Linked DNA regions of Homo sapiens: region 1 is linked to region 2. Evidence: fine-mapped QTL for protein levels in blood plasma. Region 2 holds a variant in brackets. A gene starts in the other region. All regions are shown on their forward strands.

The links. PIP is the posterior inclusion probability: the model's chance that the variant is causal. The UK Biobank Pharma Proteomics Project read protein levels with antibody pairs (Olink). The fine-mapping took linkage between variants from a reference panel, not from the people measured, so its PIPs are less certain.
Region 1: it holds the start of ADIPOQ, and the variant in region 2 is fine-mapped to the plasma level of the ADIPOQ protein (UK Biobank, PIP above 0.99).

The regions. Positions count from the first base shown.
Region 1 is chr3:186,839,638-186,845,013 of GRCh38, forward strand. It overlaps ADIPOQ (adiponectin, C1Q and collagen domain containing), which reads left to right and starts at 3,073. Exons shown (of 3, transcript NM_004797.4): 1 at 3,073-3,112. RefSeq lists enhancers at 373-530, 3,113-5,376, a promoter at 2,397-3,095 and a cis regulatory region at 2,497-2,524.
Region 2 is chr16:82,627,628-82,633,003 of GRCh38, forward strand. All of the region lies in intron 1 of CDH13 (cadherin 13), which reads left to right. Among named protein-coding and RNA genes, the nearest start is that of CDH13, 3.3 kb to the left of the region's middle. RefSeq lists an enhancer at 1,427-2,626. The variant G/T (reference allele first, on the strand shown) is at 2,056.

The DNA of each region.
Region 1 (5,376 bases), not on the chromosome of region 2:
GATGGCGTACATTGCTGCAGGGCGTGCTCACTCTACCATCTTGCTCCAATCTTTATTTTTCAAAATACAGTGCTTATGCTTGGTTACTTCAGTTAAGATTATTTTTAAAAATCATAATTAAGCAAAAATATATGGCCATGCTTAAACATATTTAAGATAAATTAAGTGATTTGGCCTGTTTCAGTATCCCAACTCACATGCTAACAGGGGCTTGACCTGTAGCTACGGTACCCTGGAGGAAATGATCGCATTTATTTGGTTATTTCGGTCTAAGTAGTAATAGTTCTGTCCTGGGAAAAAGACTAGCCTCAAGGCATTTCTGATTGAATGTTTTTCAATTACAGTCTTTAAACCAGTATGCCACAGAACTGGCTCTTTCCACATGACGGCCTTTGTGGTGGGTGGCAGATTGCCCTGAGGCCTCGCAAAATGCTAGGCTTTCACAATGTCACTGACTGACAGCCAGGCCCAGCACAGTCTTGGTGTGATTGTGGGGCTAAAGTTATTCCACCTTGTGCAATAGCTACAGCTTTCTCTAACCAGCTGCATTCTTATAAAGTTAGAAGAAAATACTTTTTTTTTTTTGAGATGGATTCTCGCTCTGTTGCCCAGGCTGGAGTGCAATGGTGCGATCTCGGCTCGCTGCAACCTCCGCCTCCTGGGTTCAAACGATTCTCCTCCCTCAGACCCCCGAGTAGCTGGGATTGCAGGTGCCTGCCACCACGCCCGGCTAACTTTTTTGTATTTTTAGTGGAGACGGGGTTTCACCATCTTCGTCAGGCTGGTCTCAGACTCCTGACCTCAAGTGATCTGCCCGCCTCAGCCTCCCAAAATGCTGGGATTACAGGCATGAGCTACTGTGCCCGGCCAAAGAAAATACTTTTTATGCCAGCCCTGAAACTACCCTGAAGCACATACATCAACCTTGAGGCCTCACACTCCATCAAGAGGGGTGAAGGGCATGAGGAATTAGAAAGCATAGGGATTTTTAGTTAGACAGATCTGGTTCAAATCCTAGACTTGTGCCTTGAACAAATTATTTACCCTCATTGAACTCTAGATTCATTATTTGTAAAATGAAAGACAATAATAGTTATCTCCAAAGGAAAGTTGAATATGATCATTCATTTATTCATTAATTCAACATTTATTATTGCCTACTTTGTGCCAGGTTCTATTCTAGGAACTAAGGGATACAACTTTGAATAGGCAAAATCTCTGCTCTCCTGAAGTTTACTTTTTTTTTTTTTTTTGAGACAGAGTTTCACTCTTGTCACCCAGGCTAGAGCGCAATGGTGCTCTTGGCTCACTGCAACCTCCACCTCCTGGGTTCAAGTGATTCTCTTGTCTCAGCCTCCCAAGTAGCTGGGACTACAGGTATGTGCCACCACGCCCGGCTATTTCTGCATTTTTAGTAGAGATGGGGTTTCACCATGTTGGCCAGACTGGTCTCAAACTCCTGATCTCAGGTGATATGCCTGTCTTGGCCTTCCAAAGTACTGGGATTACAGGCCTGAGCCACTGCACCTGACCTGAAGTTTATGTTCTATTAAATAGCAACAGACAGTAACATAAACCAAAAATAAATAGGAAAACACCATAACAAAAATCAAACAGTGATATAATTGAGAGTTGCTTCTATTTCTTTTTGTTGTCTTCTTGGTTCAATCAGCCTGCTAAACTATATGGAACCTCATTTTCATGGGCCACTTATTTAAGCCGGGGGACCTTGGAAAGTCTCTCATGTCTCTCATCTCAACGGCCTAATGTGACTTCTCTTGAAATATTTGGACATTAGCAGGAAGCTGAGGCTTTACATCAGATCTTTACTTTAATGGTGGACTTGACTTTACTGGTAGATTTTTAGGCTCTGTGTGGACTGTGGAGATGATATCTGGGGGGCAGGCAGACACTTGCCCTGCCTCTGTCTGAGAAAATTCTGTTTTGGATGTCTTGTTGAAGTTGGTGCTGGCATCCTAAGCCCTTGCTGGGGTCGTAATTTAATTCATCAGAATGTGTGGCTTGCAAGAACCGGCTCAGATCCTGCCCTTCAAAAACAAAACATGAGCGTGCCAAGAAAGTCCAAGGTGTTGAATGTTGCCACTTCAAGCCTAAACTTTCTAGGAACACCTAAGTGGGTGGCAGCTTCCAGTTCTCCAGGCTGCTTCTAGGCCAGAGCTGGGTTCCACAAGAGACAGAATAGGCATATATATGCTTAAGGAACTGGAAAAACAGGCTCTCTCTCTCTCACAAACACACACACACACATACCAAGGTAGCTGTCAAAATGTTATCCGAAATTTTGGAACCAAAAAATCTTGAAAGATGGTATTCCAATATCACATTTTATGTAAGTTTTCTATTATATTAGATTCAAATTACGATTCGAGGCCACAAGCTTTAAGAATTCAGGGCCTTTTTAACTTGCCAAGCCCCACACCACTCCAGGAACTTCCCCACACCCCAGTTCTCAGAATTCATGTGCAAGGTCTTTCCTAAATCCAGGGTCCAGGTCAGAGAGTGGAGGATGTGCTCTATTTCTTACCTGATTGCAGACCCCTCTGACAGTGCTCCCTTCTGAAGCACTCACTGTCTGAACGTACACAGTCTCAGACTTAATCATGCACAGTGAGCAAGACTGTGGTGTGATAATTGGCGTCCCTGACTTATTAGGGCAAATCTATGGGAGGGGGAGACCTCCTGGACCACTGAGCAATTAATTCATTTACATTAGGAAGTTTCTCCGTCAGATGCAGGAAAAAAATCTTGTTTTCCTGCTGTGGTTTTGACTTTTGCCCCATCTTCTGTTGCTGTTGTAGGAGGCAAAATAAGGGTCAAGGCCTGGAAACACAAGTGCTTTGACTGAAGCTCCACTTGGCTTCCGAAGCCCAAGCTGGGTTGTACCAGGTTCCCTAGGGTGCAGGCTGTGGGCAACTGCCAGGGACATGTGCCTGCCCACCGGCCTCTGGCCCTCACTGAGTTGGCCAATGGGAAATGACAATTGTGAGGTGGGGACTGCCTGCCCCCGTGAGTACCAGGCTGTTGAGGCTGGGCCATCTCCTCCTCACTTCCATTCTGACTGCAGTCTGTGGTTCTGATTCCATACCAGAGGGTAAGAGCAATTCTGTGAAGTTCCAGGCTGGGTGGGGGATGCATGCATAGCCTCTGGCTGGGATCACCCAGGCTCTCCCGTCCGTAGTAGTGTGGGAGTGGATACAGGTGGATACTCTGGTCAGAGCAGCACTGGTGGAGGCAGATATGCACTGGGCTTCTTCCTCCGTTCTCCCACAGCCCCAAGAGAGAAAGGGTTATTTCAGACATTCCTTCTAAGATGCATGGAACCATTCTGAATTTTGCCCAGTTCGCTCTGTAGCAGGATACCTATTGAGAAAAAGTTAGGGTCAGTAAGGTGGAAGGGTCTGTCCACAGATGAAGTCCAATTCGATTAAGGGGGATAAGGGAATACATTGCCTCTTAGCTTGACCAGGTAGGGCAAAGGAAGAAGCATATATGAAGGCAGCTTCAGAAAAGTCAAGCTGAGCACTGACTTCAGACTGGAATTAGGAATCCAGCTCTGCCACTTTATTCTACTCAGCAAATATTTACTGAGCAAATTCTATGGGCTAGACAGTGGATTGGGTTCACAAGATACAATGAGTGTGACATGGTTGTTGTCTATGGATTTGGGGATATATGTAGGTATAGGGATATCTTACAAGGTAATCAAGAGGTTCTAATGAGGCCAGCCATGGTGGCTCACACCTGTAATCCCAGCAATTTGGGAGACCGAGGCGGGTGGATCACCTGAGGTCAGGAGTTCCAGACTAGCCTGACCAACATGGTGAAACCCCGCCTCTACCAAAAATACAAAAATTAGTTGGGCGTGATGGCAGGTGCCTGTAATCCCAGCTTCTCGGGAGGCTGAGGCAGGAGAATTGTCTGAACCTGGGAGGCAGAGGTTGCAGTGAGCCGAGATTGTTGCCACTGCATTCCAGCCTGGGTGACAGAGCGAGACTTTGTGTCAAAAAAAAAAAAAAAAGAAAGAAAAGAAAAAGAGGCTCTAATGAGATAAAATGAGAAAAGCCTGGCATATAGTGGCAACTTATGAAAAATTGTAATTAAAAAAAAACATTTTCTGACAGAAGAAACTGGATCTACCTGGTTTTTCTGAAGCCTAATCCTGCTCGCCCCAGTGAGTGCTGTTTCTGAGGCATCCTGGTTGTTTTGAGCTGTGGATGCTGAAGGTTAGAGTGGGAGGGATTTTAGAGGTTAGGTCTGCCCCTCTTGTGTTAGAGGACATGGATCCCTGGTCTGGAGAGGTTCTGGTTTTTGGATCAAGCCTCACAAGGGGTGGCACCAACTCACTCCTAGGAACTCCGCTAGAAGGAAGGCCAGCTCTGCCTAATTCGGTTGGGGAGATGGGGGTCCCTTTATGCTAGCAGAATATGTCCGAAGGAGCATGATGGTGTCAGCTTTGTTCATGAAGGCCAGTGGTACACAGGGAGCCCGGCAGCTTCCTCAGCAGTCCCTGCTGCCACTCTTCCTTAAGTCTTGAGGAGTCTTTTTTTGGCACAATCTCAGCTCACTGCAACCTCCGCCTCCCAGGTTCAAGCGATTCTCCTGCCTCAGTCTCCCAAGTAGCTGAGACTACAGGCATGCGCCACCACGCCCAGCTAATTTTTATATTTTTAGTAGAGATGGGGTTCACCATATTGGCCAGGATGGTCTCGATCTCTTGACCTCATATTCCACCTGCCTCGGCCTCCCAAAGTGCTGGTATTACAGGTGTGAGCCACTGCGCCTGGCCGAGGAGTCTTAAGCTGAGATCACAGCATTGCACTCCAGCCTGGGCAAAAAAAGCAAAACTCCATCTCAAAAAAAAAAAAAAAAAAATAGACACAAGACTGGCTCCTTGTCTTTTTTGGGGACAGGGTCTCACTCTATCACCCAGGCTGGAGTGCAGTGGTGCAATCACAGCTCACTGCAGCCTCGATTTCCCAGGCTCAAGTGACCCTCCCATCTTAGCCTCCTGAGTAGCTGGGACTACAGGTGTGTGCAACCATGCCTGGCTAATTTTTAAAAATTTTTTGTAGAGATGAGGTCTCACTATATTGGCTGGGGGGCCTCAAACTCCTGGGCTCAGCAGTCCTCCCACCTCAGCCTCCCAAAAGGCTGGGATTATATGCTTGCTCTTTTTAAGGTGGCTGTAGGGACAAACTTTCCACCTACTCCTTGTCAAGCCAGTGGACCGGTGGTCCCAGACATACGGCTAAAGTCAAGAGGTGATGTCTTTTGGAGAGATACTTTCAATCAGGAATTTCAATCAGAAATTCAATCATGTGGAGAGAGACTTATCCTAAAAATGTGGTGGTGCGT
Region 2 (5,376 bases):
ACTTCCCAGGGCGCCCGGGCCCCCTGGTACAGCCCGGCTGCCCGCTGGAAGGCGCCTCGGGGCAGCAGAGAGCCTCAGCCCGGCTGCTGCTGTCGCTCAAAGGCGCCGGCGCCGGCCGCACCCGCATCGGGGTCCTTTTGCTCCCAGACCCCGGGCCCGAAAGGGCCGGAGCGTGTCCCCCGCCAGGGCGCAGGCCCCAGCCCCCCGCACCCCTATTGTCCAGCCAGCTGGAGCTCCGGCCAGATCCCGGGCTGCCGCCTCTGCTGCCTTCCCTGAGCGGGAGCGGAGCGCAGAGAAAAGTTCAAGCCTTGCCCACCCGGGCTGCAGCTGCTTGTTAACCCTCAGAGCGCCACGGCGCGAGGGAAGGGCACGCCAACCAGGAGAGGGGGCGAGGGAGATGCGGTCCGCCTGCAGTCACCTCTGCACCTCAGAGATTTCGGGAAGTTTGAGTGCAGGAAAGCAGCGCTCCGAGGCCAGGCCTGGGGTGCTGGCCGCTGCGGGGGGCACGCCCTGCGCTGCTCAGGGGCCTGTGGTTTCGGAGAGCACCCCGATCCAGTCCCCCATCGCCTCTCTGGCAGGCGTTGGGACTTGGAGTGAGCTGGCAGCCTGCAAGTGGGTGGATAAGAGCCAGGGCAGGGCAGGGCCGGGCAGAGTAAGGAGGGAAAGAGACAGGGAGTGCCTCAGGGTGCTAGGAATGAGTGTTGAGTTCCTGGCCGGGGTAGAGGCTCAGGTGAGAGTTTGCGGGTGAAAGGCAGGGGAAGGGAGTTGGGTTCCCAGGTAGGGACTGTCTGGGATGGGGAGACTGGTGCAGACTTCTAAGGGAGACCACTGTTAGAGCAATGTTGGGTTTAGACTTTGGAAATGGGCTAACATCTCAGAAATGCAGTGATGGGTGATAGTACCAGGGGAGATTCAAGTGCCCGGCTGCTGAGCCCGCTCCCAAGCTCCTGACTTCTTTCTTGGATATACAGTCCCGATTAAGGACTGCCCAGTTATAGCTCCTTTTCTACCAGGCTTTTCTGGTTGATTATCTTGGGGTCCCTACAGCCTTGAGTCTTGCCATGGATCCCAAGCCTGGCTGTGAACCAGTTTTCCAGATGTCCTGTACCCTAGAGACCCCAAGGCTGTATGTGTGTACATATACCCCAATTTAGCAAGGCGGTTTGGAGCATGCCTCAGACAGAAAGGATTCAGACAGATCCTTCCTGCCATCTGCTAGTGGTACCAACCCGGGCAAGTTGTTTAACCTCTTTGAGCTTCCAAGTTCTCCATTGTAAAATAATCTGCTGCCTTCCTAGGACTGCTGAGTGGATAGGATTGCATTCAACAGGATGTCCTATGCAATGCATGCCAGTCTGGGAGCTGTCGGTGTCTGAGAGCACTTACCATTGCCTTGTCCAGGACTTCACAGTCCTCTTTCTTTCTTGGCAGGTTTCAACCTCAGTTCATATTCCAGGGCTTGCCCAAAGTTATGCCTCCTTTAAAGCAAGACAGACCACGTGACAGGGCCCCAGGATCGATTTTTATGCACTAAGGGCTCTGCGCACGGTTCTTTTTGCAAATGAACTGGTGTGTCTCCTCACCCAGGGCCAGGCTGGCACAGGTGGGTTCTGAAGGCTCACTCTATTTATTTAGATGAAGGAAGCAGAGATTTTGCTGTGAATTGAAATGATTGCCCTGAGAGGCTTATTTCTATTTTCAATTGTTATGCATATCAGAGCAAATGTCCACATTAGGATAGTAATTGATATCCTGGTAGCAATAGTACCTCACAGAGAAATCATTTTGATGCAATCCAGTTAACCAGCAAGAAGTTCACGTGCAGAACTCTGTGTGCCATAGAAAAAAGTGGGGAAAGTCTTCGAGGCCTTGAGTCGACGAGCAAAAACACAACTTTCCTGAGGCAGAGAGAAAACAGAAGGGAAAAACAATGTAATAAAACAAATTAGTCACTCGGCCCTGGTGGTGTTCAGGCAAGCCTGTATGTTTTTTTCCACCACAGTTGTAAAGCATCGGGTCTGGCTTTGGAAGCCATCAATCTCTGTAAGCTTATTG[G/T]CTTGGTTGTTGTTTTAGGCATTTTGGTAGGAGGTGAGGAATTCTAAGCAACAATGACTGGAAGCTGGCACCGTTGAACAGTCACCTCTCCTATCCCCTGGGGTGTTTTGGGAAAGTCTGTCCCAGAAGTGGCTTCTGGAATTTGCCTATGATAAGTAATGACTGTGAAACAAATCAAGAAAGAAATGAGCAAGAAATTCCATGGTAAATGTGATTCCCCTCCCTATTTGGGTAGCACTTACAACTAACCAAAAGTTCTAACAATGAGTGAGTAATCCCCCAAGAATTAGGAATTTAGGGAGGGGTTCAGGCTTGGAGGACAGTCGCTTGGGAGTGACTGAAAATGTTCCATGGAATTCTGAGATTTCGCTATAAAGTGGGGAGTTCTCTCTAGGGGTCAGAGTCTTGATTTTCAGGATTTTCAATGAGAATCAGTGTCTTATAGTGCTCCTGCAAATTTGTGTGTTATGTTTTAAGAGCAGTGTTTATTTGCAGAACTTTTTGGATGAGGAAAAGGACACAGGGTTGAAGAGGGTGCTGCCCCCTCCCCCCCTAGGGTCAATACATGACAGCCTGTAAGATTTCCAGAGCACTAGGGAAATGGAATATGTAGTGAAAGGAGTCAGTGATAGAGTTCACCTGTCTGAATATTTTTTTTTAGCAAGTCCCAAAACAGGTTTAATAAACTGCAAAGCTGAGTATGTAATCTGGAATTTGTGTAATTCCACAGTCTATACTAAAAGCCCCAACAGTCATCTTAGCTGATCGCTCCTACTCTGCCTCCCTCCCTTCTCCCCTTTTCTATCTTTAGCCCTTGGGTTTTCCGTTAAGTAAAATCTGTTTACTTCCAGAAGTATCCTCTATGTGTTATAGTGAAATTGCCCAACAAACCAACATACTCAATAACTGCATTATCTAAAAGCATCAGCACTTGGATGTGTAAACTGAGCCTCAATCTGAAGTTCAATGTTTAGGTTAAAGTGTAGCTAGGTTCTTGAAAACATCCTTATTTCCTTCCAAAAATACAATTGCTTGGGGAGTCTAGTTAATTTATATTTAGTGGAATGTAGGAAAAGGACAAACTATGGATTTAATTTACACCTGAATGACAGTCATATCATCTACGTAGCCAACAGTGTTTCTGTGTGCGCGTCTGAGTGAGTGTGTACATCTCTGCATTTTGATCTTGTAATACCTGTTGAAAAATTTCTCCAGAAGAGGGCTCCATCCACAGCATTACAAAATTCTGAATCTACAGCTCATTTTAAAGAACTTCAATGCAGCAACTCCATCAAAACAAAACTATTCTCCTTATTCCACATTAATTGCCACAATCACCCCCAAATGAGAAATCCTGCCATTTTTCACTGTATTTATTTCTGTGTCTCTCTCTTTCTTGCTTTCCTTCTTTTGCTCTCTTGCTTTCTCGCTAGCTTTCTTCTTGCTTTCTTTCTTTTCCCCTATTGTAGTTGGTTCTGTTCTAATTCATTCTTTGACTCTGTATCCCCTCTGAGTATTGGAGCAGGGAAAATTTCAAAGATGTTTGTAGACGGTGCAATACGCAATGTGAGGAAGTTCTGAAATTTCCTGGCATTTGACTTTGGTTGGACTTGATTTCATTCTTTAGGTAGCCAAAAGGCAGGAACAGTTCTGCCTGTGGAAGGAGATAACCTTCCCCCTTACATAACCACCCAGAAGGGTGACTCCTGAGCTAGGTCCACTCACTTTCCATCACTCATTGAAAAGGAGAAGGAAATATCCCCCTGTCATCCAATTACAATAATCAGCTGGACAGAATCAAACCAAGTGACCAGTGGTTTTGGCATTGTTTCTATTTAGCTGTCAGCCAGGTACCCATGCACCTGTGAGAATCTGACCCTCCTGAAGGATGCTGCCAATATAATTCCCCACAGCCCGCTTCTTCTGCAGCCACCTGGGATCCCAGGCCTGGCTCCTCAGGTATGAACAGGCTGCACAGACAATGAATGGCTGGGCTGTAGGATCTCTTGCTCCTGCAGTAGGCACTCAGCAGTGGCCTTATTCTAGAGTTAGGGTGGAAAGTCATCTTTCTCTGCTGAGAGAGGCAGCTTGGGGGAAGGCAGGAGAGGAGAAGAAAGGACATTTCTAACTTGAAGTGCTGACTGAGCCAGGGTCTGTGGAGGTGAATGTGTCACCCTCTGGCTTAGCAAGTTGAACCTCGAGACATCTGCTTGGTGGTAATGGAACTCATCTATCCCAAACCTGCAACTCTGGCTTCTGGGCAGAGGTTGCCAAGTAGCAGCCACAGGCTAAATTTAGCCATGGATGCAGTTTGTTTGGCTCAAATGTTTTGCAAATTGTACATTAATAAAAAAGAAATCCAGGTTTCTAGCATTTCTGAAAAAGTCAGGTCAGGCAACCCTAGATCCACACTTCAACATGGCCGTACTTGACAGGGCTGAGTCACTACTGCCCTCTTTAGGCAGGACGTGCCTCCGTAGCTTGCCATAATCGTCACCACTCTCTACTACCCAGCCTTCTGTGCTCACTAATTTTGCCTGCTTGCCCCTAGGGCTTTTTGAGTTTGGGACCTCTGCTTTCACAAATGTTGAGGTTTGATCAAATTGATGCAGTTTATTTCTCAGTGATGGACTATTTGGAAAGGGAGGGACTGGCCTTTTCTCCTTCCCTGTGATTGAATTCCATTGATGTGTGCTTTGGAACAGCATGACCAAGGGGACTGCAGCCCCTCCCTGAGCACATTACTGGCAGTACTTTTGGACAGGCACCCAGAGAGACATAGCACCCAGATCATTGCTTCAGGTGTAAGAGTCATGCAGAGAAGTGACACGCTGCAGCTCTGAGTCAGTACGAGCCCTGGCACACCAGTGTGTTGGTACAAAATGTCATCACGCACCAGCAGCCAAGGGACTCTGAAACCCTGGGATCATATAGAGGCCTGCATACCCTCTCTGTCAGCAGTCCTCAACCATTTTGGTACCAGGGACCGGTTTCGTGGAAGACAATTTTTCCACGGACTAGAATTGGGGGGATGGTTTTGGGATGATTCAAGCACATTACATTTATTATGCATTTAATTTCTGTATTGTTACATTGTAATATATAATGAAATAATTCTACAACTCACTATAATTTAGAATTACTGGGAGCCCTGAGCTTGTTTTTCTGCCACTAGATGGTCCCATCTGGGGGTGATGGGAGACACTGACAGATCATCAGGCATTAGACTCTCATAAGGAGAAGGCGACCTAGATCCCATGCACGCACACAGTTCACACAGGATTCCAACTCCTATGAAAATCCAGTGCCACGGCTGATCTG